Homo sapiens: one gene and its partners. The protein of the gene in region 1 purifies or fractionates together with the protein of each later gene. This does not show direct contact. Each region holds a gene or a part of one and is shown on either strand. Other genes may lie near its edges. The genes, in order: SIRT4, IBA57, HSPD1, DAP3, ACOT9, STOML2 and SUCLA2.

The links.
Region 2: the proteins of SIRT4 (region 1) and IBA57 purify together in Homo sapiens (co-immunoprecipitation; one large-scale study listed by IntAct). This does not show direct contact.
Region 3: the proteins of SIRT4 (region 1) and HSPD1 purify together in Homo sapiens (affinity purification with mass spectrometry; 4 studies listed by BioGRID and IntAct, with this or other methods). This does not show direct contact.
Region 4: the proteins of SIRT4 (region 1) and DAP3 purify together in Homo sapiens (co-immunoprecipitation; one large-scale study listed by IntAct). This does not show direct contact.
Region 5: the proteins of SIRT4 (region 1) and ACOT9 purify together in Homo sapiens (co-immunoprecipitation; one large-scale study listed by IntAct). This does not show direct contact.
Region 6: the proteins of SIRT4 (region 1) and STOML2 purify together in Homo sapiens (co-immunoprecipitation; one large-scale study listed by IntAct). This does not show direct contact.
Region 7: the proteins of SIRT4 (region 1) and SUCLA2 purify together in Homo sapiens (co-immunoprecipitation; one large-scale study listed by IntAct). This does not show direct contact.

The regions. Positions count from the first base shown.
Region 1 is NC_000012.12:120,305,105-120,309,112, forward strand, and holds part of SIRT4 (NAD-dependent protein lipoamidase sirtuin-4, mitochondrial), read left to right. Parts: intron 1-4,008. UniProt on the Homo sapiens protein: Acts as a NAD-dependent protein lipoamidase, biotinylase, deacetylase and ADP-ribosyl transferase. Catalyzes more efficiently removal of lipoyl- and biotinyl- than acetyl-lysine modifications.
Region 2 is NC_000001.11:228,178,877-228,182,861, forward strand, and holds the end of IBA57 (iron-sulfur cluster assembly factor IBA57, mitochondrial isoform 1 precursor), read left to right. Parts: 3' UTR 1-3,381; downstream 3,382-3,985. UniProt on the Homo sapiens protein: Mitochondrial protein involved in the maturation of mitochondrial [4Fe-4S]-proteins in the late stage of the iron-sulfur cluster assembly pathway. Operates in cooperation with ISCA2 in the maturation of [4Fe-4S] proteins.
Region 3 is NC_000002.12:197,489,570-197,493,577, reverse strand, and holds part of HSPD1 (60 kDa heat shock protein, mitochondrial), read left to right. Parts: intron 1-85; coding exon 86-254; intron 255-3,281; coding exon 3,282-3,381; intron 3,382-4,008. UniProt on the Homo sapiens protein: Chaperonin implicated in mitochondrial protein import and macromolecular assembly. Together with Hsp10, facilitates the correct folding of imported proteins.
Region 4 is NC_000001.11:155,730,083-155,734,090, forward strand, and holds part of DAP3 (small ribosomal subunit protein mS29), read left to right. Parts: intron 1-1,273; coding exon 1,274-1,333; intron 1,334-1,861; coding exon 1,862-1,951; intron 1,952-4,008. UniProt on the Homo sapiens protein: As a component of the mitochondrial small ribosomal subunit, it plays a role in the translation of mitochondrial mRNAs. Involved in mediating interferon-gamma-induced cell death. Displays GTPase activity in vitro.
Region 5 is NC_000023.11:23,708,351-23,712,358, reverse strand, and holds part of ACOT9 (acyl-coenzyme A thioesterase 9, mitochondrial isoform a precursor), read left to right. Parts: intron 1-4,008. UniProt on the Homo sapiens protein: Mitochondrial acyl-CoA thioesterase. Catalyzes the hydrolysis of acyl-CoAs into free fatty acids and coenzyme A (CoA), regulating their respective intracellular levels. Regulates both mitochondrial lipid and amino acid metabolism.
Region 6 is NC_000009.12:35,100,071-35,104,801, forward strand, and holds the start of STOML2 (stomatin-like protein 2, mitochondrial), read right to left. Parts: upstream 3,062-4,731; 5' UTR 3,025-3,061; coding exon 2,980-3,024; exon of another isoform or gene 2,754-2,979; coding exon 2,616-2,753; exon of another isoform or gene 2,125-2,615; coding exon 2,025-2,124; exon of another isoform or gene 1,893-2,024; coding exon 1,834-1,892; exon of another isoform or gene 1,742-1,833; coding exon 1,640-1,741; exon of another isoform or gene 1,491-1,639; coding exon 1,356-1,490; exon of another isoform or gene 1,210-1,355; coding exon 1,065-1,209; exon of another isoform or gene 942-1,064; coding exon 862-941; exon of another isoform or gene 657-861; coding exon 528-656; exon of another isoform or gene 103-527; coding exon 1-102. UniProt on the Homo sapiens protein: Mitochondrial protein that probably regulates the biogenesis and the activity of mitochondria.
Region 7 is NC_000013.11:47,998,147-48,002,592, reverse strand, and holds the start of SUCLA2 (succinate--CoA ligase [ADP-forming] subunit beta, mitochondrial precursor), read left to right. Parts: upstream 1-1,319; 5' UTR 1,320-1,323; coding exon 1,324-1,413; intron 1,414-4,446. UniProt on the Homo sapiens protein: ATP-specific succinyl-CoA synthetase functions in the citric acid cycle (TCA), coupling the hydrolysis of succinyl-CoA to the synthesis of ATP and thus represents the only step of substrate-level phosphorylation in the TCA.

The DNA of each region.
Region 1 (4,008 bases):
GATCATGAGCTGAGATCATGCCACCACACCCCAGCCTGGGCAACAGAGCAAAACTCCGTCTCAAAAAGAAAAAAAAAAAAGAAAGTTGAGCAAGCTAGGGTGATTTTCTTTTATTTTCTTTTGTGTTTGTGTGTGCACGTGTGTGTGTGTGTGTGTGTGTGTGTATGACAGGCTTTCACTCTGTCACACAGACTGGGATGTGGTGGTGTGATTATAGCTCACTTCAGCCTCAATCTCTTGGGCTCAAGTGATCCTTTCACCCCAGCCTCCTAAGTAGCTGGGACTACAGGCAAACGCCACCGTGCCCAGCTAATTTTTAATTTAATTTTTATTTTTTGTAGAGACGAAGTCTTACTATGTTGCCCAGGCTGGTCTCGAACTCCTGGGCTCATGTGATCCTCCTGCCTTGGCATCTCAAAGTGCTGGGATGACTAGTGTGAGCCACTGTGCTTGGCCTTGAAGCTAGGGTATTTATTCACCATCTCTCATCCCTCATGGGTCCAGGATCACTCTAGGGGAATTAATTCCCTAACATTTTGACTCTGCTCCTCCCAAGGAGGCTTCCGTGGGCAGAGAACATCTGAGGCAAGAGAGACACAGGAAACTGCTTGTAAGAAAATTGTGTAGGCTGGGCGCGGCGGCTCACGCCTGTAATCCCAACACTTTGGGAGGCTGAGGCAGGCGGATCACGAGGTCAGTTGATCGAGACCATCCTGGCTAACATGGTGAAACCCCGTCTCTACTAAAAATACAAAAAATTAGCTGGGCGCGGTGGCGGACGCCTGTAGTCCCAGCTACTCGGGAGGCTGAGGCAGGAGAATGGCGTGAACCTGGGAGGTGGAGCTTGTGGTGAGCCGAGATCGCGCCACTGCACTCCAGCCTGGGTGACAGAGCGAGACTCCGTCTCAAAAAAAAAAAAAAAAGAAAGAAAGAAAATTGTGTCCACCAGGGTGCTGTGGTTCATATCTGTCATCCCAGCAACTCAGGAGGCTGAAGCAGGAGGATTACTTGAGGCCAGGAGATCAAGACCTGCCTGGGTAACACAGCCAGACTCCGTCTCTACAAAAAATTTTTTTAAGAAAGGAAATTGGCTGGGCACGGTGGCTCGCGCCTGTAATCCCAGCACTTTGGGAGGCTGAGTTGGGCGGATCACCTGAGGTCAGGAGTTCGAGACCAGCCTGACCAACATGGAGAAACCCTGTCTCTACTAAAAATACAAAATTAGCTGGGCGTGGTGGTGCATGCCTGTAATCCTAGCGACTCGGGAGGCTTAGACAGGAGAATAGCTTGAACCCAAGAGGCGGAGGTTGCGGTGAGCCGAGATTGTGCCATTGTACTCCAGCCTGCAGCCTGGGCAACAAGAACAAAACTCCGTCAAAAAAAAAAACAAACAAAAAAACAGAGAAAGGAAACTGGGACGGGTGCGGTGGCTCATGCTTGTAATCCCAGCACTTTGGGAGGCAGAGGCAGGCAGATCACTTGAGGTCAGGAGTTCGAGACCATCCTGGCCCACACGGTGAAACCCCATCTCTACTAAAAATACAAAAAATTACCTGGGCATAGTGGCGCACGCCTGTAGTCTCAGCTATTTGGGAGGCTGAGGCACGAGAGTCGCCTGAACCTGGGAGGCAGAGGTTGCAGTGAGCCAAGATTGTGCCACTGCACTCCAGCCTGGACAACAGAGTGAGACTCTATCTCAATAAAAAAACAAAAAGAAAGGAAACTGTTCGAACGTGGCCTTTAGCATGTTCTGAGGAAAATATGAGCTGAACACCAATAGCATGTGCTATAAACTGCTGGGTTTCCAATGCCTAGGATGGCTAGATACATAGACCATAACGTAGCCGGGCAGTAGTCAGAACTCAATCAATAATGAGGGAACAGATACATGGGAGGGTATCATGCTTATGGGTCTGGCAATAATTGTAGCTAATTGGAGACTTATTTCTTTAAGCCCTAGAGAGGCTCCTCTGAGGGCTGAAGTCAGTCTGCCAATGCTGAAATATTTACTGGGTGCCTAGAATGTATGGTGTACATACGTTACACTATGTAGTACATTATAACACTAACTACTGTGCTTCTTAGTGGTCAGAACCAAAGTATAGGCTGGGCTCAGTGGCTCACACCTATAATCCCAGCATTTTGAGAGGCTGAGGGGGCGGATCACTTGAGCTCAGGAGTTTGAGACCAGCCTGGCCAATATGTCGAAACCCAGTCTCTACTAAAAATAAAAGATTGGCCAGGCGTGGTGGCGGGCGCCTATAGTCCCAGCTACTCGGGAGGCTGAGGCAGGAGAATTGCATGAACATGGGTGGCAGAGGTTGCAGTGAGCCAAGATCGTGCCATTGCACTCCAGCCTGGGCGACAGAGGGAGATTGTCTCAAACAACAAACAAAAACCAAAGTATAAAACATGGCCCACTTTATATGCAAGAACTTTGTAATATTTGGGAAGACACAAAAATAACATAATTGGCCGGGCACGGTGGCTCACGCCTGTAATCCGAGCACTTTGGGAGGCCGAGGCAGGGGATCACCTGAGGTCAGGAGTTCAAGACCAGCCTGACCAACACAGTGAAACCCTGTCTCTACTAAAAATACAAAATTAGCCAGGCATGGTGGTGCATGCCTATAATCCCAGCTACTCAGGAGGCTGAGACAGGAGAATCATTTGAACCCGGGAGGCAGAGGTTGTAATGAGCTGAAATCGCACCATTGCACTCCAGCCTGGGCAACAAGAACGAAACTCCTTCTCAAAAAACAACCAAGCAAACAAACAAAGAAAAGCACATAATTAATGATAAATGACAACGCATGATTGTGAAATTGTGTGGTTCTTGATTTATATGCTGTGCATGTTCAAATAAACAGATTTAGTAAAGATTGGAATAATCAGTTGAGAAAGCTTTTTAAAAAAAAAATTTTTTTTTTTAAATAGAGACAGGATCTTGCTGTGTTGCCTAGTCTGGTCTCGAACTCCTAAGCTCAAGCCCTCCTCCTGCCTTGATCTTCCAAAGTGTTGGGATTACAGGTGTGAGCCACCATGCCTGGCCCAAGAAAGCTTTTTTTTTTTTTTTTTTTTTGAAACACAGTCTTGTTCTTGTTGCCCAGGCTGGAGTGCAGTGGCACGGTCTCGGCTCACTGCAACCTCCGCCTCCTGGGTTCAAGTGATTCTCCTGCCTCAGCCTCCCAAGTAGTTGGGATTACAGGTGCCTGCCACCACCCCCAGCTAATTTTTTGTATTTGTAGTAGAGGTAGGGTTTCATCATGTTGGCCAGGCTGGTCTCGAACTCACTCCTGACCTCGTGATCCGCCTGCCTCGGCCTCCCAAAGCGCTGGGATTACAGGCGTGAGCCACAGCGCCTGCCCCAAGAAAGCTTTTATGGGTACAGGGGGCTTGAGATTGGCTCAGGTTTGTCTAGGCAAGAGCGGGAAACAGGGCTTTCCAAATGAAGGGAAGTTGTAGATCCCAGAGGAGTCTGGCCTGGCCTCTGTAGAGGTTTGGACCTGGGACTTGCAGAAACCAGATTGTCTGGGAAAGTTAGGCCCAAATCATGGTTACATTTGAAAATCAGGCAGTGCAGTTGGGTCTGCTGTGAGACACCAAAGGGGTTTATTAGTGGTTTCTGAGCAAGCAAGCAACATGATAAAAATAGCATTTGAGGAAGGCTAAACAGGATTAAAAAGAGCAGGTCAGGGAGGTCAGCCTGAAAGACCTAGACTAAGGTGGTATCCAGGGAATTTGAGTTAATGATGCTTATGGATTCATTAAAACAATTTTTTCCGCCGGGCGTGGTGGCTCATGCCTGTCATCTCAGCACTTTGGGATGCCGAAGCGGGTGGATAACCTGAGGTCGGGAGTCAAGACCAGCCTGACCAACATGGAGAAACCCTGTCACTACTAAAAGTACAAGAACAACAAAAAATTAGCCGGGCATGGTGGCACATGCCTGTAATCCCAGCTACTCGGGAGGCTGAGGCAGGAGAATCGCTTGAACCTGGGAGGCGG
Region 2 (3,985 bases), on another chromosome or scaffold:
GCAAGGCAGGGCAGATGTGCGGCTGGCCAGCTGGAGTGATTTCCATGGGCTCCAAGCTGTAGGAGTGGTCCCTGGCTGCCAGAGTGCTCTGGCCAGATAGAGGTGGGCTCTGGACTGGTGAGGCTGCATTGCGGAGGCGCGCACACCCAGCTGGGCCCTTATCTGTAAGGACTGGCTGGCCTGGGAGGGGCAGTCTCCCAGCCAGAAGGTGGAATTTTTTTTTTTTTTTGAGATACCAAAACATCCTAAGGTACAGGAAAGAAATTGTCAACACACACACACAGTACCATAAACAAGGCCCAGCAGAAAGGCAGACAGAAGCACACACACCAATGTTCTGATCTTAGAGTAAGCAGACACATCACATGGAATGAGGATGTTTAATATATTTAAAGAAAACAATTTATGCACAGGAAGCAAGAGACTATAAAAATGACCAAGCAGATTTTAAAAAGAGAACTTGTTGAAATAAAAATAAAATACTCTAAAAAATATTCCATGATGTGTTTCCTGAAGAATCGGGAACTGTTTGAAGAAATGACCCAAAGTGCAGCACAGAAAGACAGAGCTGGAAAATATGAGATGGGATGAGACAAGAAGATGGAGAGTTTAGTATGACATCCGCAATTTACGAGTAATTCCAGAAGGAGGGGAAAGAGAATATGGGGTGGAGGCAAGTATTCAGAGAAATACGGCTGAGAACTTTCCCAAACCAACAGGAGCCCCTGCTCCTTAGGTTCAGGAACCAGCAGCTCCCAAGCAGCATAGTTAAAAAGCTCTACCCAAACAGTCACGTCTTGGTGAAAGTACAGAATCTCATGACAAAGAGATCTTAAGGCAGAAAAGAAAGAGATTATCTGGAAAGAAGAAAATAAGTAGTTGATTAAAAGCAACAGTGGAAGCCAGAAAGATAGTAAATAATATCTTCAAAGTCCTGGGAGAAAATAGTGATAGCCTAGAATTGTGTACCCAGAAAATCCGTCTTTCAAGAATGAGGGGCCAGGCGCAGTGGCTCACGTCTGTATTCCCAGCACTTTGGGAGGCCAAGGCAGGTGGATCACCTGAGGTCAGGAGTTCAAGACCAGCCTGATCAACATGGTGAAACCCTGTCTCTACTAAAAATATAAAAATTAGCTGGGTGTGGTGGCATATTCCTGTAATCCCAGCTACTCGGGAGGCTGAGGCAGGAGAATCACTTGAACCCAGGAGGCAGAGGTTGCAGTGAGCCAAGATTGTGCCATTGCACTCCAGCCTGGGCAATAGAATGAGACTCTGTCTCAAAAAAAAAAAAAAAAAAAAAAAAAAAAAGAGGGCTAAACGCATTTTCATACCACGAAACTGCCCTCACTCCGGAGTTTGCTGCCAGCAGAGCCTAGAGCGTCTAAGGCATGTCTGGGCTTCTGGCGAGGGATCCTGTGGGGAAGCTGGAGATGGAAGAAGGAGTGAATAGGCAGGAAGGTGGATTTGTGGGCATGTCTAAAACACCACATCTAGAAGCTTCTACTTAGAATGCCTACTTTTGGAGTTTATAAAAAAGATGCCACATGTTGAGTTGGGAGAGAGGTGCCCAAACCTACAGTGTTCTAAAGTCCCCCTACTGGTCGGAAGGAGGGCACGGACACTGACTTCAGCATCTGTTACAAGGCTTATCAGAGTTTTCAGATAATCTCTAAAAGAATGGAAATATATCTTCCAAACTATAGAGGGAAGACCATGGAATTTAAAAGCCAGTCCTTCAAGGAGAAATGAACAAACTCAAAATCGTAGTTGGGAGTGTTTTTTTTTTTTTTGAGACAGAGTCTCACTCTTGCCCAGGCTGGAGTGGAGTGGCATAAACACAGCTCACTACAGCCTCAACCTTCTGGGCTCAGATGATTCTCCTGCCTCAGCCTCCTGAGTAGCAGGAACTACAGGTGTGAGTCATCACACTCAGCTAATTTTTTTTTTTTTTTTTTACTTTTTGTAGAGATGGGGTTCTCACTGCATTGCCCAGGCTGGTCTTGAATTTCTGGGCTCAGGTGATCTTCCCACCTCAGCCTCCTGAGTAGCTGGGACCACAGGTGCATGCTAATTTTTAAAATTTTTTGTTTTTAAATGCTGGTCTTCAACTCTTGTCCCCAAGTAGCTGGGATTGGGGCATGAGGCACTGTGCTAACTTCATGTTGAAATTGAATTGCCATTCTAACAGTGTTAAGAGATGGGGCCTGTAAGAGGTGATTAGGCTGTGAGGGCTCCACTCTCCAAGGGCGGAGTTAATGTTATGAAAGGGTAAGTCCAGCCCGCTTGTGCCTCTCTTGCCCTCCAGTGTTCAAAGCACCATCTTGGAGGTGGAATTCCCAAGTCGGCCAGTTCCTGGATCTTGGACTGTCCGGTCTCCAGAACCGTGAGCCAATAAACCTCTGTTCCTTGTAAATGAGTCAGCCTCAGGTATTCTCTTGTAGCAGCACAAATGGAGGCAGACACTTCCTTCACCAATCTCATGGGAGGCCCACTCCTGTGAGCTGCCTCTAGTTCCCCAGGCCACAGACTCCATCAGGGCTCACCTGGAGCCGTCCCTGTCTCACCTGGAAGCTCTCCCACTCCTCTGGCCAGCCTGGGCATCTCCACCCAATATGAGTGATGGCGACTGATTCCCTTACTTTAGCAAGCTGGGAATAAGGAATGTTTGCCTGTTCTTATTCAGGGGTCTCTGCATCTCCACACTTGCACAGGTTGTGTGTACATACATTTTCCTGTCTTTCTGGTAAGCCCCTGGGGTGGAGCTCTGGGCCACAGGGCAGGAAAACTCAGTGTTGCTAGGAACTGCCAGACATTTTCCCGGAGTGAGTGCAGCATTTACATTCCCACCAGAAGTGTGCCAGGTTCTTGTCATACTGCGTCCTCGCCAGCGCTTGGTGCTGTCAGTCTTCTTAGTTTCCATTTAGAGATTCAGTGTTTAAATTTTGAACGTCTTGGGTGAACACCTTGGTTTGAGAAAAGTAAGAAAAAGGGTCTGTCTGGCTATGGGCCATGGAGACCCAGGGCAGTGCTCCACGTGCCAACCCTGGGGCAGGGAGCCCAAGCTAGGACTGTGACTGTCTGGGCTGTGGGCATCTGACCATCTCCAGTGTCCCCGTCTTTGATTTCCCTGGCGATGGTGCTAGCTTAGTTTGTGCGCATCGGCATTTGTGGGAGAAATGAAGGATTAATACATTTTGTTTTATGTCAGACTCTCTCAGTGAGAAGTTCTCAGGGACAATAATAGCAGGGGGTCCTGCTGAAGAAAAACTGGGAGATGGCTGAGCTCTGGTCCATCTTTCATTGATTCATTCATTTCTTCATTCATTCAACCATGTATTGAATGCTTATAGCCAATGAAAATAAAGTACACAGTATATTTTATTGCTACGGGCTCTATGGTGAAAAATGAAGCAGGAAAGCGGGACAGGGTGTGTGTGGTGGGGACGGGGTGTGTATGGTGGGGACGGGGTGTGTGGTGGGGGGACGGGAAGTGTGTGGTGGGGACGAGGTGTGTGGTGGGGACGGGGTGTGTGTGGTGGGGACGGGGTGTGTGCGGTGGGGATGGGGTGTGCGGTGGGGACGGGGTGTGTGTGGTGGGGAGATGGGGTGTGTGTGGTGGGGACGAGGTGTGCGGTGGGGACGGGGTGTGTGTGGTGGGGAGATGAGGTGTGTGCGCTGGGGACGGGGTGTGTGCGGTGGGGACGGGGTGTGTGTGCTGGGGACGGGGTGTGTGCGGTGGGGACGGGGTGTGTGCGGTGGGGACGGGGTGTGTGCGGTGGGGACGGGGTGTGTGCGGTGGGGACGGGGTGTGTGTGGGGGGATGGGGTGTGTGGGGGAGGACGGGGTTTGTATGGTGGGGACGGGGTGTGTGGTGGGTGGGGTGTTTGTGGTGGAGACAGGGATGGGGCGTGTGAGGGCACTGGAGGTGTGGATAGCAGTTGGATGCCCAGCTGGGGGTAGGCAGTCTGGAGGGTCCTGAATTTGG
Region 3 (4,008 bases), on another chromosome or scaffold:
TGTATTGGAACCTTGGTTTCGCTTTTCATTTAAATGTATTGCAGTCATTTTTTGTATATTTTTGAAATCTTCATTATTTTTACAGGTCAGAAATGTGAATTCCAGGATGCCTATGTTCTGTTGAGTGAAAAGAAAATTTCTAGTATCCAGTCCATTGTACCTGCTCTTGAAATTGCCAATGCTCACCGTAAGCCTTTGGTCATAATCGCTGAAGATGTTGATGGAGAAGCTCTAAGTACACTCGTCTTGAATAGGTAATAAGCAGTGGTATTTGTTGATTTATATTTCTCGGTGAAAGACAGAATTATTTGTATTGCTGTTTGCAGTTTCCATCATGTGTACCTCCACATTTGATCCAGTTGGGTTTGTATCTAGAATTGTAATTGTGTAAATCAGGTGTGCTCTAATGTATCCTTATGGTTGTGTTTTTGAAGGAACCCCAAAGTCTTTACTATTTTGATCAGCTTTCTCATAGAATAGACTAATTTAGCACATGGGTACCTTTCTGTATTTTGCAAGTGTTTACAGTTGTTTTGAAGGCACATGACTGAATCTTGTATTTTTTTTTTTTGAGACAGAGTCTCACTCCCTGGCCCAGGCTGGAGTGCAGTGGCATAATCTTGGCTCACTGCAATCTCCATCTCCTAGGTTCAAACAGTTCTGCCTCAGCCTCCCAAGCAGCTGGGACTACAGGTGCGTGCCACCACACCTGACTAATTTTTGTATTTTTAGTAGAGACAGGGTTTCACCATATTGGCCAGGCTGGTCTCAAACTCCTGACCTCGTGATCCGCCCGCCTCAGCCTCCCAAAGTGCTGGGATTACAGGTGTGAGCCACTGCGCCCGGCCTTGTAATTTTTTTATTTTTTATTTTTATTTTTGGAGACAGAGTCTCTGTCACCCAGGCTGGAGTGCAGTAGTGCAGTGGCTCAATCTCAGCTCAAGCCTCCGGGGTTCAAGTGTCAATCTTGTTTTTTGTTTTGTTTTGTTTTGTTTTTTTAAGGTTTTTCTGGTTAAAAATATGTAAATTTTCAGAATATTATTTTGCATAGAACAGGGAAGTAAACAACTAACTTCCAAATAACTCAGAGCCAGGCATGGTGGCTCACAGCTATAATCCCAGCACTTGGGGAGGCACAGGCGGGTGGATCACCTGAGATCAGGAGTTCCAGACCAGCCTGGCCAACATAGTGAAACCCCGTCTCTACTAAAAATATAAAAATTAGCAGAGCATGGTGGCGTGTGCCTGTAATCCCAGCTACTCAGAGGCTGAGGCAGGAGAATCACTTGAATCTGGGAGGCGGAAGTTGCAGTGATCCGAGATTGTGCTGCTGCACCCCAGCCTGGGCAACAAAGCGAGACTCTGTCTCTAAATAAATAACTCAGATGTAAGTGTATTTCACCATCGAATATTTTTATTTATTTTGAGAGACAGACTCTGTCACCCAGGCTGGCCTGCGGCGGCACGATCATAGCTCACTGCAGCCTTGAACTCTTGGGGTCAAGCAATCCTCCTGCCTCAGCCTCCCAAGTAGCTGGGACTACACACTTGCACAAGCACACTTGGCTGATCTTTTAATTTTTTTGTAGAGACGAGGTCTCAATATGTTGCCTCAATATGTTGCCTAGGCTAGTCTTAAACTGTTGGTGAATCTTAAGTGATTCTCCCACCTCAGCCTCCCAAAGTGCTGGGATTACAGGCATGAGCCACTACCCTTGGCTGTGATCAAGTATTTAGTCTGTTGTTAAATGTTTACTAAATAGTCTGAAGTAGAGAAAATAGCACCCAATCTAAAATAAGGTGAGGTCTAGTCACTTATTTAAATCTACATTTTAAGCTATAGTTTACTATTAGTTTAAACTTTAAGACAGGTAATGTTCATGCTGCAGACAATCTAAGGGCATTATTAAAATGTTTGTTCTTCCTTATCTCAGAATTGAAGTATGTCAGAAGCAAGACTTTTCTTTCCATTTTGTTATAGTAGAAATGCATACATTAACAGGTACGTTTTAGACATTACACGTGCTCATCTGACCCAAAAGCTCTAATGAGCTGCCTTACCCTGGAATGTTTTTCTTAGCTTGGATTTGCTTTTTTGGAGGGATTAAGAAAAGACTTGGCTGGGCGTGGTGACTCATGCCTGTAATCCCAGCAGTTTGGGAAGCCGAGGCGGGTGGATCATGAGGTCAGGAGATGGAGACCATCCTGGCTAATACGGTGAAACCCCGTCTCTACTAAAAATACAAAAAATTAGCTGGGCGTGGTGGCGGGCTGAGGCAGGAGAATGGCGTAAACCCAGGAGGCGGAGGTTGCAGTGAGCCGAGATCTCGCCACTGCACTCCAGCCTGGGCGACAGAGCAAGACTCTGTCTCAAAAAAAAAAAAAAACACACAAAAAAAAGACTTGAGGCCAGAAAAAAACAAGCCTACAGAGTTTTCATTAAGCCATTTTACTGCTAGTTGAAAAGTGGGATATCCAGTTTACATAGCATATAGCTTATTCCTCTGATTTTTATTTGGGTCCTTAATAAAATAGACCAGCTGTCTTGAAGTTTGAACGTTGCTTCTGTTTCACAATCTGCTCTCAAATGGACATTTGATTACACATTCCAAGTATTCATTTACCTGGTAAAAATTTCAGGTGAGCTTAACAATACTGTCAGCTTTTTGTATAACATTTATAAAAGAAGTGAATTCAGAACATTGCTCATTCAAAACTCAGCATTAATATATGGAGATGTTTATTAAATGACCCTCAAATGTAATATTTAGTAATTACTGTTTTTCTACCATTCATAATAGTTATCACTGTATCCTATAACTTACTGTGATGTGATTTTTGCTGCTCGGCCTCCTGAGTAGTGGGGATTACAGGTGCCTGCTACCACATTTGGCTGATTTTTGTTATTTTCAGTAGAGACAGGGTTTCACCATCTTGGCCAGGCTGGTCTCGAACTCCTGACCTCGTGATCCACCTGCCTGGGCCTTGCAAAGTGCCGGGATTACAGGCCTGAGTCACCACGCCCGGCCAGGCCAACAGTTTATTAAGAAGGTAAACGGATATGGACAAGTATAATTAATAGAAAATAGCCTAAACTGTCTCAGATACTTCCTGTCTTAATTTGATCAAAAATTGCTAGGAAGCAAAAAAAAAACAAAAAAACACAAAAACCAAACCAGATTACTTAGGGAGTCCTAAGTAATCTAGTAACAGCTTGAGGGGAATTAAACAGATAGGCATTTTTATTTCATTTAAATCTTACTATCAACTATTCTTAACAGGCTAAAGGTTGGTCTTCAGGTTGTGGCAGTCAAGGCTCCAGGGTTTGGTGACAATAGAAAGAACCAGCTTAAAGATATGGCTATTGCTACTGGTGGTGCAGTAAGTAAAATAAATGTGATAATGGTTTGCTGAATGTTTATACTTGTCTGGAATTTATAGATAGTTTAACATTTCACAATTAGATACTACAACTATCTGTTTCTTTTGGCTCTTTGGAAGGTAGGGGTTGGATTAAATTCCCGTTAATTTGCCACAAGTCTGGCCTAAGAATGAGCTTACTGACTATTCTATATTGACTAAATCTTATTGACTGAATAAGGGGGTTTCCTTTTTTTTGTTTTTTTTGGAGACAGTGTCTTGATCTGTCTTGACTATTCTTGACTTGATCTATATTGACTATTCTTATTGACTTAAATCTGTGGGGTTTCTTTTTTTTTTTGAGACAGGGTGTCTTGATCTGTCACCCAGGCTGGAATGCAGTGGCACGATCTTGGCTTACTGCAACCTCCACCTTCTGGGTTCAAGCAATCCTCCCGTCTCAGCCTCCCAAGTAGCTGGGACTACAGGTGCAGTACCATGCCCAGCTAATTTTTTTACTTTTAGTAATGACGGGTCTCACTGTATTGCCTAGGCTTCTCAAACTTCTGGACTCAAGCAATATGCCTGCCTCCGCCTCCCAAAGTCCTGGGATTACAGGCATGAGCTACCGAGCTCAGTTTTGAAAGG
Region 4 (4,008 bases), on another chromosome or scaffold:
CATATATGTATATATACACACATATATTCATATATATTTATATATACATATATTCATATGTTTTCATAATATACGAATATACCTATATGTTCATATATGTATATATAATATTCATATATGTATATATGTATATATAATATTCATATATGTATATATGTATATATACGTATATATGCACACATACATATTCGTATATGCATATGCACACATACATATTCGTATATATATGTGAAGATAAACAGCAAGGCCTGGTGTGATGGCTGATAAATCCCAGCACTTTTAGGAGGCCAAGAGGTGATTTGCTTGAGTCCAGGAGTTTGGAGTTTGAGGTCAGCCTGGGCAGCACAGTGAAACCCTGTCCCTACAAAAAATATAAAAAACTAGCTGGGCATGGTGGTTTGCACCTGTATGTAGCTCCAGCTACTTGGAAGGCTAAGATGGGAGGATGGCTTGAGCCCAAGAGGCAGAGCCCGCAATGAGTGGAGATCGTGCCACTGCATTCCAGGCTGGGCAACAGAATGAGACTCTGTCTCAAAAAAATAAAAAAAAAGAAAAGATAAACAGTAAAATGGAATCAGAGGAGGAGGTAATGCCAAGAGTTCCACTATTCATTGAAAACTAAGGGAGTATGTTGTGGAAAGAGAATGACAGCAGAAGCTATGTTTTCTTTCTTAATTTTTATCTGTCTTTTGATTCTTTTTTCAAAATGAGTCTAGATGGTCTAAGCAGAGGAGATCAGAAGCATCAAAATGGGGCTGGTTTGGGGCAGTGGGTGTTTTTCTCAGTGACTGTTAATCTCCAGAAGCATGGCAGTTCTAGGGCCAGAGGCTACGTGGCTTATCCTAGAGGGAGTACCTTCAGGTATACAATTATGTCTTAGTTGAGGGTTTTAAAAAAATTGTTGTCACCAGGTGCAGTGGCTCATGCTTGTAATCCCAGCACTTTGGTAGGCCGAGGTGGGTGGATCACAAGGTCAGGAGTTTGAGACCGTCCTGGCTAACACGGGGAAACCCTGTCTCTACTAAAAATACAAAAAAATTAGGCTCTGGTGGCGCGCGCCTATAGTCCCAGCTACTCAGGAGGCTGAGGCAGGAGAATCGCTTGAACCCAGGAGGTGGAGGTTGCAGTGAGCCCAAATCGCGCCACTGCACTCCAGCCTGGGCGACAGAGCGAGACTCTGTCAAAAAAAAAAAAAAATTGTTGTCAATTGTTTCGGGAGAACATCTAGGAAAGGCACGTGATGATCTCTTCTCTCTTTCTGTCCGATATGCAGATTGCCCCCGAGGAATTAGCACTTGTTCACAACTTGAGGAAAATGATGAAAAATGATTGGGTAAGTGCATATGATACCTCACACATTTCAGAAAGAAATGTATTATCATTTTAAACATGTTCTACTATTTCATTGCTAATACTTTACAGTCTCTAATTTTATGGACAGTAAGTTATTATGTCTTATTTAATTCCTGTATCTGTACCAAGTTAGAAATAAAGTCTGAATTAAAATCTATATATATGTGGTTTATAATCTTTCCAAAGTAAGTTTATTCAAAACCATTTTATTTAAATATTGGCCTAATTTTATTTTGCTTGCAGACATTTAAAGTGTTTTTGTATCTCCTTACCGTCTTTGGAAAAGAGTTTGAGACCCACAAATATGTCATGGTAAATTTAAAATCAGGTAGCAGTTTATTGTCAGAGCCAAATCTGGAATAACCAATTTAGTTGCCATTTAACTGTGCTAGACCACACTTTTGTAACACTGTATGCCCAAGAAAGAAAAAAAAAATCTACAGATGATTAATGCAGTTTTCCATCCTTTTTAACTTTTTCCAGTTCAGCCTTTTCTCTTTTCTTTCAGCATGGAGGCGCCATTGTGTCGGCTTTGAGCCAGACTGGGTCTCTCTTTAAGCCCCGGAAAGCCTATCTGCCCCAGGAGTTGCTGGGAAAGGTCAAGTCAAAGGAAAATTTGTTTCTACTTAGATTGTTATCCTGTTTAAAGAAAAATATTTTTATTAATCTATGTATTTTGACATAATTTCAGACTTAGAGAAAAATCATATTCCTGTATGCCCTTCCCCTGGATTCCTAAAATATTAACTTGATCATCATTGCTTTATCCGTCTCCGTCTTTCTCCAGAGTTTCTTTTCTTTTTTTTTTTTTTGAGACGGAGTCTTGCTCTGTCAACCAGGCTTGAGTGCAATGGCGCAATTTCGGCTCACTGCAACCTCCGCCTTCCGGGTTCAAGTGATTCTCCTGTCTCGGCCTCCTAAGTAGCTGGGATTACAGGCGTCCACTACCACGCCCAGCTAATTTTTTGTATTTTTAGTAGAGACGAGGTTTCACCATGTTGGCCAGGCTGGTTTCAAGCTCCTGACCTCAAGTGATCCGCCTACCTCAGCCTCCCAAAGTGCTAGGATTATAGGCGTGAGCCACGGCGCCTGGCCTTGATGCTTCTTTGTCTCCAAATAATGTCTCATTCCTAAGAACAAAGATACTCTAATATACCCTGAGCATAATTATCAAAGTCAGAAAATTGACATTGATATCATACTTTTACCTAATTGGTGGGATTTATTCTGATGTAGCCAGTTATCCCAGTATCTTTTATAGAAAAATAAATCCCAGATAATGTGTTACATTAAGTTGTCATGTCTCTGGCTGGGTGCGGTGGCTCATGCCTGTAATCCCAGCACTTTGGGAGGCCGAGGCAGGCGGATCATGAGGTCAGGAGATCGAGACCATCCTGGCTAACATGGTGAAACCCCGTCTCTACTAAAAATACAAAAAATTAGCCAGGCGTCGTGGCGCGTGGCTGTAATCCCAGCTACTCAGGAGGCCGAGGTAGGAGAATCGCTTGAACCCGGGAGGTGGAGGTTGCAGTGAGCCGAGATTGCGCCACTGCACTACAGCGTGGGTGACAGAGCGAGACTCCGTCTCAAAAAAAAGAAAAAGTTGTCATGTCTCTTTGGTCTCCTTTAATCTGTGACAGTCTGTCAGTCTTTGTCATTTGAAATCTTTATGTTTTTGGCATGTGCATGCCAGCTATTTTGTAGGTCACTTTTTGGGGTTGTCTGAGGTTTCCTCCTGAATAGAAGTGATGTTAGAAGTGATGACATGTCTGAGTGAGTGCATCCTATCAGGAGGCACATTTCTCCCATTACTGGTAATGATTTTGGAACTGTTAGCTGAGGTGTTGTCCATCTGGTTTCTCTTCAGTAAAGTTATTATTTTGCTTTGGAATTAATATGTATGTTGTAGAGATATACTTTGAGACTAGGTAAAGATCCTGTTACTTCTCAAACTTCCACCTACTGGTTTTAGTATCCATTACTTTAGTTATACCTGGCATGGAGCCTCCGCAGCTGGTATGGTCTTGTGGATTTTTATTTAATAGAATCTAAATCATTACTGTCACTTTTTATTTTGGTGCTCAAATCATCTTAGATTTGGCCATTAAAAATTCCTTCATTGGCCGGGTGTGATGGCTCACGTCTGTAATCCCAGCACTTTGGGAGGCCAAGGCGGGTGGATCACGAGGTCAGGAGTTCAAGACCAGCCTGGCCAATATGGTGAAATCCTGTCTCTACTAAAAATGTAAAAATTAGCCAGGTGTGGTGGTGCGTGCCTATAGTCCCAGTTACTCTGGAGGCTGAGGCAGAAGAATCGGTTGAACCCAGGAGGCGGAGGTTGCAGTGAACCAAGATTGTGCCATTACACTCCAGCCTGAGCCACAAAGCAAGACTCCGTCTCAAGAAAAACAAAAAACAAAAAAACAATTCCTTCATGGCCAGGCTTGGTAGCTCACAGCTGTAATCACAGCACTTTGGGAGGCCAAGGCAGAAGGATCCCTTGAGCTCAGGAGTTTGAGACCAGCCTGGGCAACAAAGTGAGACCCCATCTCTACAAAAAAAAATTTTAAAACTAGCTGGGCATGGTGGCATTCACCTGTAGTCACAGCTACTCTGGAGACTGAGGTGGGAGGATCGCTTGAGCCCGGGAGGTCA
Region 5 (4,008 bases), on another chromosome or scaffold:
ATCTCGGTTCACTGCAACCTCCGCCTCCTGGGTTTGAGCGATTCTCCTGCCTCAGCCTCCTGAGTAACTGGGATTACAGGCATGTGCCACCATGCCTGGCTAATTTTTGTATTTTTAGTAGAGATGGGGGGGTGTTTCACTATGTTGCCCAGGCTGGTCTCGAACTCCTGACCTCAAGTGATCCACCCACCTCAGCCTCCCAAAGTGTTGAGATTACAGGCGTGAGCCACCATGCCCAGCTGAGTTGTGCAATCTCTTAAATCTGTTTTAATCCAGAACAGTTGTGTCTTCCCCTATTGTTTCTTATTCACTCGTTGAGAGGCTGGATCATTTGTTCTAAATAGTGTCCCACTTTCTGGATTTGTTCTATTGCTTTCTCATGGTGGTTTGTTTGTTTGTTTTTTGATCTTGTTTCTCTATCCCTAGTAATTTCTCTAAACTGAAGTTAGATCTAAAGCCTTGTATTAGATTTAGGTTGAGCATATTTGGTGAGAGTACTACATAGATGATGTTGTATATCTCGTATTTCATATTGCATCGTATCAGGAGGTACAGGTTGTCCCACTCACAGTGATGCTAAGATTAGTGTGTGGGTTCAAGCAGTTACAGCCTAATCTCTCCTTTGTGAAGTTCAGTTTTTCCTCTTCTGATCAGCAACAATCTACAGGGGTGTACTTTGTCATCCTGCAAATAGCTGAGTTTCCCATCAGTCTTTTTCCAGTGCTTTCAATGTCCACTGCTGATCATTGCTTTAATTAGTATCATTAGGCAGTTTAGAGTAATTCTCAAATTTTGTCATTCCTTCTATGTTTGTTAGCTGGAATTCTGTAAAGAAGAGCGTTCCCTTAACAACTAGGGCGATTGGGTTTGAAATGGAGTTAGGATCAATGCTTCATTCTTGTCTTTTATTTACATGTTTTCAGAATAAGGAGTTGGTTCACTAGCTAGTGATGACATGCTTTTCCCAGTTTTTTAGCTTTTTAGAAAAGTATCATGTTTTTAAATTTCTTTTTTTTTTTCTGTGTGTGTGTGTTTTTGAGATGGAGTCTCGCTCAGTCACCCACACTGGACTGCAGTGGCGCAATCTCGGCTCACTGCAGCCTCTGTCTCCTGGGTTGAAGAGATTCTCCTGCCTCTGCCTCCCAAGTAGCTGGGACTACAGGCATGCCCCATTATGCTTGGCTAATTTGTTTTGTATTTATAGTAGAGACGGGGTTTCACCATGTTGGCCAGGCTGGCCTCGATCTCCTGACCTCAAGTGATCTGCCCACCTAGGGATTCCAAAGTGCTGAGATAACAGGCGTGAGTCATTTCGCCCAGCCCGTTTTTTTTTTGTTTTTTTATTTTTTTTGAGATGAAGTTTTGCTCTTCTCTCCAGGTTGGAGTGCATTGTCATGTGTCATGAGCATGGCTCACTGCAGCCTGGGCCTCCTGTGCTCAAGCAATCCTTCCGCCTCAGCCTCCTGAGTAGCTGGGACCACAGGCACATACCACCATGCCGAGCTAATTTTTTTTCTTTCTTTCTTTTTGAGATGGAGTTTTACTCTTGTTGCCCCGGCTGGGGTGCAGTGGCGCAATCTCGGCTCACTGCAACCTCCACCTCCTGGTTCAAGTGATTCTCTGGCCTCAGCCTCCTGAGTAGCTGCCCAGCTAATTTTTAAATTTTTTGTAGAGATGGGGTTTTGCCATGTTGGCCAAACTGATCTCAAAATCCTGGGCTCAAGTGATCCTCTCACCTCGGCCTCCCAAAGTGCTAGGATTACAGGTGTGAGCCACTGTCCTGCCAGAAAAGCATCATTATGAATTCATGGTTGTAATATATTACATGTATTTCAATAAATTGCAGCCATTGTTTCTCTTGATGCTCCAAGTGTGCCTTCTTTGGGCGGTGGGAGTTCCTCTAAGCTGGCTCCTTTCCACCTGTCTGTTTGATAGCTTCCTGCTGTCTGACACAAGATGTCTTGGGCTCATCTTACGTATTTCCTGCCCCAGGCCTGGAGTCAGCCATTTCTCCAAGTAGTCCTGGGGTTCCTTTTAGTGGGAACTGGTATTTAGACATCAAAATCTGGGCACTAGAACTGTACATTGTTACTAGTTTGTTATTGTTTCCAGGCCTTTTTAGTGGACAGAGCTAGGATATATTTTAAACAAACAAAAAACCTCATGAGAGCTGGGTGTGGTGGCTCACGCCTGTAATCCCAGCACTTTGGGAGGCCGAGGTGGGCAGATCACTTGAGCCCAGGAGTTTGAGACCAGCCTGGCCAACATGGCGAATCCCCATCTCTACTAAAAGTACAAAAAAATTAGCCAGGTATGGTAGCATGTGTCTGTAGTCCCAGACGATGTGGGAGGCTGAGGTGGGAGGATTGCTTTAACCCGGGAAGCAGAGGTTGCAGTGAGCCAAGGTCGCACCACTGCACGCCAGCCTGGGCGACAGGGCAAGACCCTACCTCAAAAAAAGAGCCTCATGAGTTTATATGGTCATTTTCAAGTCATTTAACCATATAGACTTCAACTTACTTTACGTCATCTTTTTTCTCTGAAATTGAATTCTTGGTTTCTAACAACAGTTACACCCAAACTGAGAAAAACTAATTGTGGGGGTAGAGCTGGGGTGGGAGGGATTGCTCTTTGCACAGGACAGAGTCCAGTGGCCTGTGGGAAATCTCATTTGTATTAGAAACTTGATTTAGGAGTCTGCAGTGAAAAATCTTTGCTGCTGCGTGGAAAGCTGACTTGGAAAGCCAAATTAAGATAGAAAAATATGTTGGTCCCTTAGTGATCTGAGGGAAGAATAACACCCATCTACTCTGGCCCTTCCTGCCAGCCCCAGCTGACCTGCTGTGGCCAGTGACTGGCCTGGGGCTTGTATTCAAGCACTGAGGCCACTGCTGCAAGTTTCACTCCCAGCTGATGCATGTCACTTTCCCAAGCTGTTGTTTCAATTCTTTTGTTTTTTGTTTTCAAGACAGAGGTTGGCTCTTGTCACCCAGGCTGGAGTGCAGTGGTGCTATCTCGGCTCACTGCAACCTCTACCTCCTGGGTTCAAGTGATTCTCCTGCCTCAGCCTCCTGAGTAGCTGGGATTACAGGCACCTACCACCACACCCGGCTGACTTTTGTATTTTTAGTAGAGACGGGGTTTCACCATGTTGACCAGGCTGGTCTCGAACTCCTGACCTTAGGTGATCCACCTGCCTTGGCCTCCCGAAGTGCTGGGATTACGAGCGTGAACCACTGCCCCCGGCCTGTTTTAATTCTTTTGTTTCCATTGTTGTTTCATCAAATCTTTTGATTCTACCACAGTGAAATATTATCCCTTTTCCCTTATTTTTTATTTCAAAAAATTTGATGCTTACAGAAAAGTAGATAGAATAATGCAACAAACGTATGCCTTTCACGTAAATTGTATTACATTTGCGTAATTCTCTTACCCTCTCTCTACAAATACACACATTTACATATTTTTTCCCATGAATCATTGGAAAGTAAGTTTGAGACTGCTTCACCCATTCAGGAGTTCAGCATGTATTTCCTAAGAACCAGGTATTTCTCCATAACCTCAATGCCTTTATTATATCTGAGAAATTCAACAGTGATACAGTTATTTAATATGTGATCCGTATTCAGATTTCACCAGTTGTCCCTAAAATGTCCTTTATAGCTATCTTCCTGATTCAGGACCCAATCCATCAAGGATTGTATATTGCATTTGGTTATCCTGTTTCTTTAGAATAGTCTCTCTGCCATTTGCTGTCTTTCAAAAATTGATATTTTTAAAGAGTTCAAGCCAGTTTTCTTTTTCTTTTTTTTTTTTTTTTCTTTTTTTGAGACAGAGTTTCGCTCTTGTTGCCCAGGCTGGAGTGCACTGGCACGATCTCGGCTCACCGCAACCTCCACCTCCTGGGTTCAAGCAATTCTCCTGCCTCAGCCTCCCGAGTAGCTGGGATTACAGGCATGTGCCACCACGCCCGGCTAATTTTGTATTTTTAGTAGAAACGAGGTTTCT
Region 6 (4,731 bases), on another chromosome or scaffold:
ACTTGCATCTGTACCCTGGACATCTCTGCTGCTCCCACTGGAGAGTGAGTCTGGAGTCCCTGGCACTGGGGCTTTGGTGAGGGCTCCATATACACCCATGGCCTGAGGAGAGGAACAGAGAGAATACCATGAGGACACTTGACAGAGGTGCAGCCCAGCCTACCAATGGCTAAACGGGAAAAGATGGCATGGGGGCCAGTAAGTTGGTTTTCCTTTCTCCCTCTCTCAAACCTGTCTTGTAAGCTCTGGAGTTGATTTTAGGAATCTTGCAAACCATCAGAGTAAAGTGACTCTCAGAATACCAGCACAAGTATCTACCAAAAAAAGGTATCTCAAGAACTTCCATATTTGCAGGACTGAGTGGAGATGTTTCATTCTTAGATTCCATCTCTACAAAGAATGAAGGGAGGTCTAGGGCCAAGGCACTCTGAAGACCTTTATGGTATGTAAGTGTTGATGACGGTGGTGGGGTCTCAGTTTGGTCCCTGGCACCAGTGCTCTATGCTGGGTCCTCAGAGAGCTCTAACCTGAGCCACCATGCTGGTGACATCGCCAGGGTTGGAGGGCAGTAGGATAGTGTTGGAGTCCTTGGCCAGTTTGGAGAACGCGCTGACATACTGCTCGGCCACAGTCAGTGAAGCTGCTGCATCTCCATTCTGTGATCACAGGGGGATAAAAATCAGAGATCACCGATACGGAGAAGAAGGGGGGGATGGGGAATGAAGAAAGCAGTTCACAATAAAAAGGACCATGTAATCTGGCTCAACAGAGCCCACAGAGGCGGAACTCTCCTCAAGCGTAGATAAGAGAACCCCTTCCACTGTCAATTCCTGTCCCCATTCCCACCCAGGGGCCTCTCACATGTTGTGTCAGAGCTGCAGCCAGGATTCGAATAGCTTCAGCTTTAGCCTTGGCCTTCGCCAGAACTGCACTGGCCTCTCCTGCAAGAGAAGGGACAGAGCTTGCTTGACCCATGAAGTCAAAGTACCCCAAAGATCCTGCCCCAGCACCAATCTTCAAAGGCCCATGCCTTGCTCCTCCCTCAGCCTCTACCCTCTCCTGACCTGCTGCCTGATTTATCTGTTCAGCCTTTTCTGCTTCGGAGGCCAGGATCTGGGCCTGTTTCTTCCCTTCTGCCACATTGATGGCCGACTCTCGGGTCCCCTCAGACTCTAGAACTGTGGCCCGTTTCCGCCGCTCTGCCTCCACCTGGAAGCCCACAACAATCCCAATCAACAAGCCAAGGGAGACTGATACAGACATGCAACTCTACCCATCATAACAGGAGGGAAGTCTGGATCCTCCTGGTACTGGAGCACCCTGAGGCCCTTTTCCCACCCCTCCTTGGCCCCCACCTGCATCTGCATAGACTCTTTCACCCGGGGTGGCACATGGATATCCTTGATCTCATAACGGAGGCAGCGGATACCCCAGCAGTCAGCAGCTTGGTTGATGGCATCCACAATGCTGGCATTCAGGGACTCCCGTTCCTGGAAAAAGAGGTGTAAGCCCCACAGCCTCAACCTACCTATCAAGGGCCTACACTGAGAAGGGCCTGGGACTGATCTTGACCTTCAGAAAAGATTAAGAGTGTCAGGTTTGTGTCTTCAAACCCTAACTCTGGCTCAGATCTGCTTACCCGGAAGACTTTGTCCAGAGAGAGTTTGCCGAGCTCTGATCTCATGGTTGTTTGAGCTAGCTGGGTGACGGCATACTCAGGGTCCTCCACACCGTAGCTTGCCTGAGATGGACACGGATAGTGTAAGAAGCTTGGGCACAAGATTTTAGTGAAGAGGGCAACTCAAAAGGCTGGATAAAGTAGGGGACAGGTACCTTGTAAGGGTCCATGATGCGCAGGTAAAGGACTCCATCGATTTGCAGAGTTACATTGTCTGTAGAACCAGGAGAGAAAACGGGGAAAGTCAGGCCTCTAGGTCCCAACCAGTTCTTTCTACTAAGCTCTGGATCTACAGCAACCACATCCTAATAGCCTCAGAGCACCCATGTCACCCTGAACCCCTCACCGAGAGTCACAGCCGACTGCTCAGGCACGTTGATGACAATTTCCTTGAGACTCTGCACATATCGGATCCGGTCTAACACAGGGATGAGGATGTTCAAACCCTGGAAAGAGGAGTCATGGGTCCTCAGAAGGCTGGGAACTATTGGGTTGGGACCTAAGCTAGTCCTGGAGTATGTAGGGAGTCAACACATGGAACATGCCCAGAAAAGCAGCAGCTCCTACCAAGAAATAAGTCCTCAGAAGGCTGAGGTGTCACTGGTAAGAAAACCCAAGAGAACAGGAATGCAAGACTAGGCCCCTGAATGGAGGGGAGAGTCATGAGAATCGGAGCCAGCAGAATAGCCATCTCTATGCAGACTGAGAGGTAGGGCTGAGAGTGGGCAGGGGAGATTCCCAAGAATGGGGCCTGTGAGATGCATAGGAAAAGGTGGTAACATGGGGATGATGGTCAGCAGCCTGGGCCCTGTCAGGTCTGGCCTACAGAGTCGGGAGCTAACAGTGCGGGCAGGCCCAAAGGAAGTCCTCCCGACATTGCATGTCGTGAGGGATTGGTCATCTGGCTGGCCCAGGGTGGGCAGAAGAGGTTTCTCACAGGCTCCAGGATCCGGTGGAATCGGCCCATTCGCTCCACCACCCAGGCCTCCTGCTGCGGCACGAACAGTACCACGGTGTTTCGGGGCAATCCAGAGGAGGCGCGGCGCGGAGCGCGGCCAGAAGCCAGTAGAGAGCCCTGAAGGAAAGAAGAGGGTGAGCAGAGATCCCATCTGGCCAGACACGCCGCCCCTCGGTCCTGAAGGCATCTCCATAAACCACGACCCTCAGGATCCTCGGAGAATCACATGGGGACCATGACCTCTGACCCCAGTCCTCTCCAAAAGTTGGAATTTCGCTCTTTTCCAGCGGAGAACCCAGGTAATCTCTGTCCTGACCCTCTGGAAAGGTTGCCTCGCTCTCACCCTCAGCAAAAGGGCCCCAGTGCCCCGCGCCGCGCGCGCCAGCATTTCCCACCGCCGCAGCGACCTCCGGAACCAACGAGACGAGCGGAGCGGTCGCTCCCAGAAGCCTACCCGAGCCTTTCCTCTTGCAGTTCCGCTCCCCCGGATGTACTTCCGGCAGCTCCCTCCCCCGCTTCAACACTCACCCAATCAGCGTTACTTGGTCGAACGGCGCGTCAAGTTGTTCCCTGGGAAACGCAGACCTTCTAGAGAAGGGCGAAGGCTGTGGTTGTTCTGGGTTTAGCTGTTCACGCCGAAGATCCCCGGCCTGATGGCCAAAATGGAGGCTATTTTTCGCGGGCATTATCACTCAGACACCACGCACTGAATTATTCGTCCTCACCCGAGACTCAGTTTGCCCACCAGAGCGTAGTATCGCCCCCATCTGTCACCATAGCGACTAGTGGATTGGAGCTGACTCGTTGCCATGGTTGCCATAGTGATATTCTCTGGTAGTCCCGCTGTGTTGTGCCCAGGACTCCCACTGGGGACTGACCCCAATCCCGTTGCCATGGAAACTGGGCCTAATATTGCCTGGCGATTGGGCCGAGATTTTCCCCTCCCCTCTTTCCTCAAAGACACTGCAGCTCCTTCCCTGTCTTCCCAAGCAAGGTTTGTTATGCCCGGTCTTAAATACAGTCCAGCAAACAGCCTCAACGTTCAACCTTGTCTGGAGCATGTCACCTTGCCCACATCCCTAATGCTCTGGTAGTCAAGAGACCTCCGTAGTCACCTCCATTTTACATATGAGGGCACTGAAGTTCTGAGGGGCTAAAGTCATTAATAGAACCAGTATTAGAATCCTGATCTACAATTCAGAGTTCAGCTTCTACGGCTGAACTTTACCCACCAACCCCTCCGAAAGGAGAAAAACCAGGCCCCAGGAATCAGCAGGGACTAGCCTAAGACCTCATGGGCCCAGGCCTGTTGCCTCTCTGGTAGAAAGGGCTGAGTCCCAGCTCCAGGAAGGCCCTCCATCCCCCTTCACACCCTCTCCCCAACAACAACAACAACAACAAAAGTAGAGCTTAGTTCAAGTTTCCAAACAAGAATTTATTCTTTCTTTTTTAATCTTTTTTTCTAAAAAAAAGTACCAGGTACAATTTTTTCCTGTTTTTGATTTGCTTTGTTTTTTCAAGTTTCAGCAAATGCTTGTTCCCCTCAGCCCAGCCCCAGGAGTTAGGACTGAGGCTGGGTCAGAGTCTGGAGTGGGGAATGGGGTAGTTTGGAACCACATGACTGAGTTTGAGGGGTGCCCCTCACCCCAGCTGAGGTAGGTGGGTCAGAGTCTGGCCAGGTGAGAGGAGGCACCCCAGTGCTTGGCCCTGACTCTGCCCCCTGGACACCTTCTTCAGTCAGGACCCCAAAACAAGGAGACACAGGTAGGAGGAGAGGGACAACTGGAGTCTGGAGCCCTAGGTGAGGGGTGGTTAACCCCTGTGTGTGTGCATACATGCACACTCACACACACATACCACACAAAGACAAGCTTGTGCACACACACATACGCATAACTTGGCTTTCAGAGATAGGTCAGAGGGTAGGGGAAGTGAAGGGACTGGGGAAGGACAGGGGAAGCTGAGTCTTTGGCTACTGACTCAGTCCCTCTGGAATAGCCCCTCTTCCCTCAGCTGAGGGAAAGCAGTTCTCCTCCTGCCCCCACCGCATAAGCCTCTTCAACTCCTGAGGTTGGAGCAATATCTGAGAGTGGGA
Region 7 (4,446 bases), on another chromosome or scaffold:
GAGGTTTGTTAAATTTATTTATCTTTTCAAAAACCAGATCCTTGGCTGGGTGTGGTTGCCCACACCTGTCATCCCAGCACTTTGGGAGACTGAGGCAGGAGGATCGCTTGAACCCACGAGTTGGAGACCAGCCTGGGCAACATAGAGAGATTCTGTCCCTAAAAAAATAAAATAAAAAAATCAACCAAGCCTGGTGACACACATCTGTGGTCCCAAACTACTCCAGAGGCTGAGGTGGGAGGATCCCTTGAGCATGGGAGGTTGAGGCTGCAGTGAGCTGTGATCGCGTCACTGCACTCCAGCCTGGGTGACAGACCAAGACCCTGTCAATCAGTCAATCAATCAATCAATAGCTTCCCTGGAGACTCCAGCCTGCCACCAGCTTTGGTAACTAGTGGCCGACTGTCAGGCCTCTGAGCCCAAGCCTGCACGTGTACATCCAGATGGCCTGAAGCAAGTGAAGAATCACAAAAGAAGGGAAATTGGCCGGTTCCTGCCTTAACTGATGACATTCCACCATTGTGATTTGTTCCTGCCCCACCTTAACTGAGTGATTAACCTTGTGAAATTCCTTCTCCTGGCTCAGAACCTCCCCCACTGAGCACCTTGTGACCCCCGCCCCTGCCCGTAAGAGAAAAACCCCCTTTGTAATTTTCCGCTACCCATCCAAATCCTATAAAACAGCCCCACCCCTATCTCCCTTTGCTGACTCTCTTTTCGGACTCAGCCCGCCTGCACCCAGTTAAAATAAACAGCCTTATTGCTCACACCCTGTTTGGCGGTGTCTTCACACGGATGCGCGTGACACCGATCTCTTTGAGCATCAGAAGCGCATGACACCGACCATCTTCTCTTTGAGCATCACAAGCGCGTTACACCGACCATCTTCTCTTTGAGCATCACAAATGGTTTTATTCATTGCTGTAGGCCAAGGGCTCAAGGCTGTTTAGCACGAAGTAGACACTGGGTAATCATTTCTTGAATGAAACACATTTTACAGATGAGGCAACTGAGGCTGAGAGAAGTTAAGATCACCCAAGTGGCGGCGCTGGTCACCTTTACATTGCAATTCACTAGGAAGTGTTCAGGTTGCTCTGACCGCAGGGCAGATATTGGGGCTGCGGTGCCCAGTTCCAAAGGTCAAAGCTTGCTCCGCGCCCGCCAGGGAGCTGGTCTAGCGGCTGCAGTGTTAACCCGAGGCCCCGCCCCCAACGGGTGGCGCGAGGCGGGGCGTAGGTGAGCGCTGCAGAGAGGCTGCGCCTTGGGCCGCCTGTCGCCTGTGCGCCTGCGCGCGGCGCCGAGGGGACGGGGTCCGACTCAGAAATGGCGGCCTCCATGTTCTACGGCAGGCTAGTGGCCGTGGCCACCCTTCGGAACCACCGGCCTCGGACGGCCCAGCGGGCTGCTGCTCAGGTAATGCCTTCCAGTCCGCTGTCGTCTCGAGGGTCGGCAGGAGAAAGGGTGAGGTGTGAGGGGTCCCGTGGCCCGGCTCGGGGTCACTTCGCCGGCAGTGACATTTTCTGGGTGCCCTGCAAGGCCCTCGGGCGACTTGCCTGGGAGTGCTGCTCGCCAGGACTACGAGCGAGCCCATGTTTGCGCGGCTCTGACCCAGCCCTTAGTCCGCGAGGATCCCCGGCGGCCCGGCCGTGGCTGCTCCTGCAGTTTCTAAGAGATGGGCGGGAGCAGGTGGGCTCTGAGTGGAGGTGAGGGGGTCAGGACATTTTCTGCTGCCATTCCGGCGTCTGGCACGGTGGGCTGAGACTTGCGCCGCCCCTTTTTGGGCAGGGGGGAATGCCCTTCAAAAGTACTTTTGTGTTTCTTGGGAGCTGTCATAGGTGGGAATGTCAGAGGACCAGCGGTGCTTACTGACTTGCCTTTTGTGGGGCAAGGTAGGGAAGTTTCCCCTCTCCTCCAAGTAGTTGTATACTGTTCTACTTGTTAATAGCAGTAATAAGATTATGTTTTCTACCTAACCAGTTGGAGAGGTAAGAAAATAATCTTTTGTATAGCCTTATTTCTGGATAGGCTATAGCATAATAGTTACTGGCCTTGTTTTGAATATTTGATGTGTGCCAGGTAATGTGCTAAGCGCTTTACGTGTAGTTTCTCAGGTTTTTCAGCAACTGTGAGGAAGTCATTCAACACCTGCATCATTGTTGAACATATTATGGTTAAGAGAACAAGTAATTTGGACTAGGTCATATAGGAGGTAAGATCAAAGCTGAGATTTAATCCCAGAGGTGTCTGGTTCTAAAGCCGTGTACTTGAGTTGGCTCCACAACTTCGAAAACAAACATCTTCCTTCCAACTTTGACAACAAAAAACTGTGGAAGGGCATTATTGGTGTCCTAAGTCAATTCCAGAGTTTTGGGTTTTTTTCTGAAGTAACTCTTCATACATGTCATAGTATGAATTGATTTAGGGCCCTCCCGCCCCTACCTTTTTTTTTTTTTTTCATTTTTATTGAAGTTGTTCATACTTTCAGCCTAGGGGTAGTGAGTTCTGTGAGTTTGCTTCCCGATAGAAGTGACTTTTTGACCTTGAACTTCCTTCTTATGAATCTTAGAAGAGTGCTATTTAGTTTTTAGAAAATGGGGAATTTAGTGACAAATACGTTTTCATTCTAGTCAAAATCTTTATCTTTTTGGAAGTTCATTTAAAAGCCTTCATTTCTCCTTATGGAAATTTCCAATATTATTTTCTTTATAACAGTTGCTGTCTTCTACCCTGGTATTAAGAAATGCAGCTCTAGAGTTTGGAAGGACCTTAGTCCAACCCTTTGCTTTTGTAGATGAGGACATAGAAGTACGGAGTCTTAAGAAACTCGTTCAAGGTCACACATTTAATTTAGCAATTTGTTTTCCACATTTTTTTTTTTTTTTCCTTGAGACGGAGTCTTGCTCTGTCGCCCAGGCTGGAGTGCAGTGGCGCGATCTTGGCTCACTGCAAGCTCCGCCTCCCGGGTTCATGCCATTCTCCTGCCTCAGCCTCCCTAGTAGCTGGGACTGCAGGCGCCTGCCACCACGTCCGGCTAATTTTTTGTATTTTTAGTAAAGACGGGGTTTCACCGTGTTAGCCAGGACGGTCTCGATCTCCTGACCTCGTGATCCTCCCGCCTCGGCCTCCTAAAGTGCTGGGATTACAAGCTTGAGCCACCGCACCCGGCCTGTTTTAAACATTTGTTTAAGTTCTCTGACCCTCCTCCAATTTCTTGGTATCTTTAGCCTAGTGTACCTTCGTTGAAAATAGATATTTCAGCATATGTCTTTAAGAATAAGGACATTCTTCCAAATAACCGCAGTGATCATACTTAGGAATTCAACATTGCTGTAACATGAATATATATAGTTTAGATTCAGATTTTTCTAGTTGTCCCCAAAGTGTTCTTTATAGACATTAGATTTTTTAAAAATTTAAACTGGGATGAGACCTTGTGACATTTTCTCTGACCAACTAACCAATTAGGTGCCACCTAGTGACTTATGTGCTAGTGACCTAGTGCTCTTATATGTGTTGCAGTTGTTTATTTACATGCCTGTGAACTCTGTGGCTGGGACCCAAGTGTCTTTATTTTTTTAGTGTCCCTAGCCCACTGTCTAGTTCATAGTCATCACAAAAAATATTTGAGTGTATGACTTTTTGCCAGGCTTATGCTAGTTACTCCCCTACCCACTAATTTTTATTATTATTTTGACGTATAATTTATGTACAGTAAGATGTACAGCTTAAGTGGATAGCTAGATTAATTTTTATGTATGTATTCACCTGTGTAACCATCGTCTGCATCAAGATATACAATGTTTCCAGCCCTCAGAAGGCTCTCATGTCCTCTCTCTTATCAATACTCCCTGACAGAAGGTAGCAACCAATTATGACTTCTGTCACCATAGGCTAATTTTGACTGGTTTTGAACGCTATAAAAATAAATCATGTAAGTATATATTCTTGTTTCTGGCTTCTTTCTCTCTACATTATGTTTGTGAGATTAATCCATCGATGTGTGAGCCATAGTACTTTTTTTCTTTTTATTTCTCTGTAGTATACTATTATATACATATACCACAGTTTATCCATTCTCCTGTTGATGGGCAATCAGCTAATTTCTGTTTTCTGTCTGTTATAAATAAGCCTGCTCTGGACACTCTAGACATTTTTATGTGTGCCTTTTGACAGATGTAAGGACTAATTTCTATTGATACATACCCAGGAATGGGATTTCTGAGTCAGAAGGTGGAGGTATACTAAACAGTAGTTTGAGAGGTTGCTGGGTTTTTTTTTCTTTTTTTTTTTTTTTTTAACTTATTTATTTGTTTTTTTAGACAGGGTCTTGCTCTGTTGACCAAGCTGGAGGACAGTGGTGAAATCACAGCTCACTGCAGTCTCAAACTCCTGAGCTGAAGGGATCCTCCTGCCTCAGTCTCAGGAGTAGCTGGGATTATAGGTGTA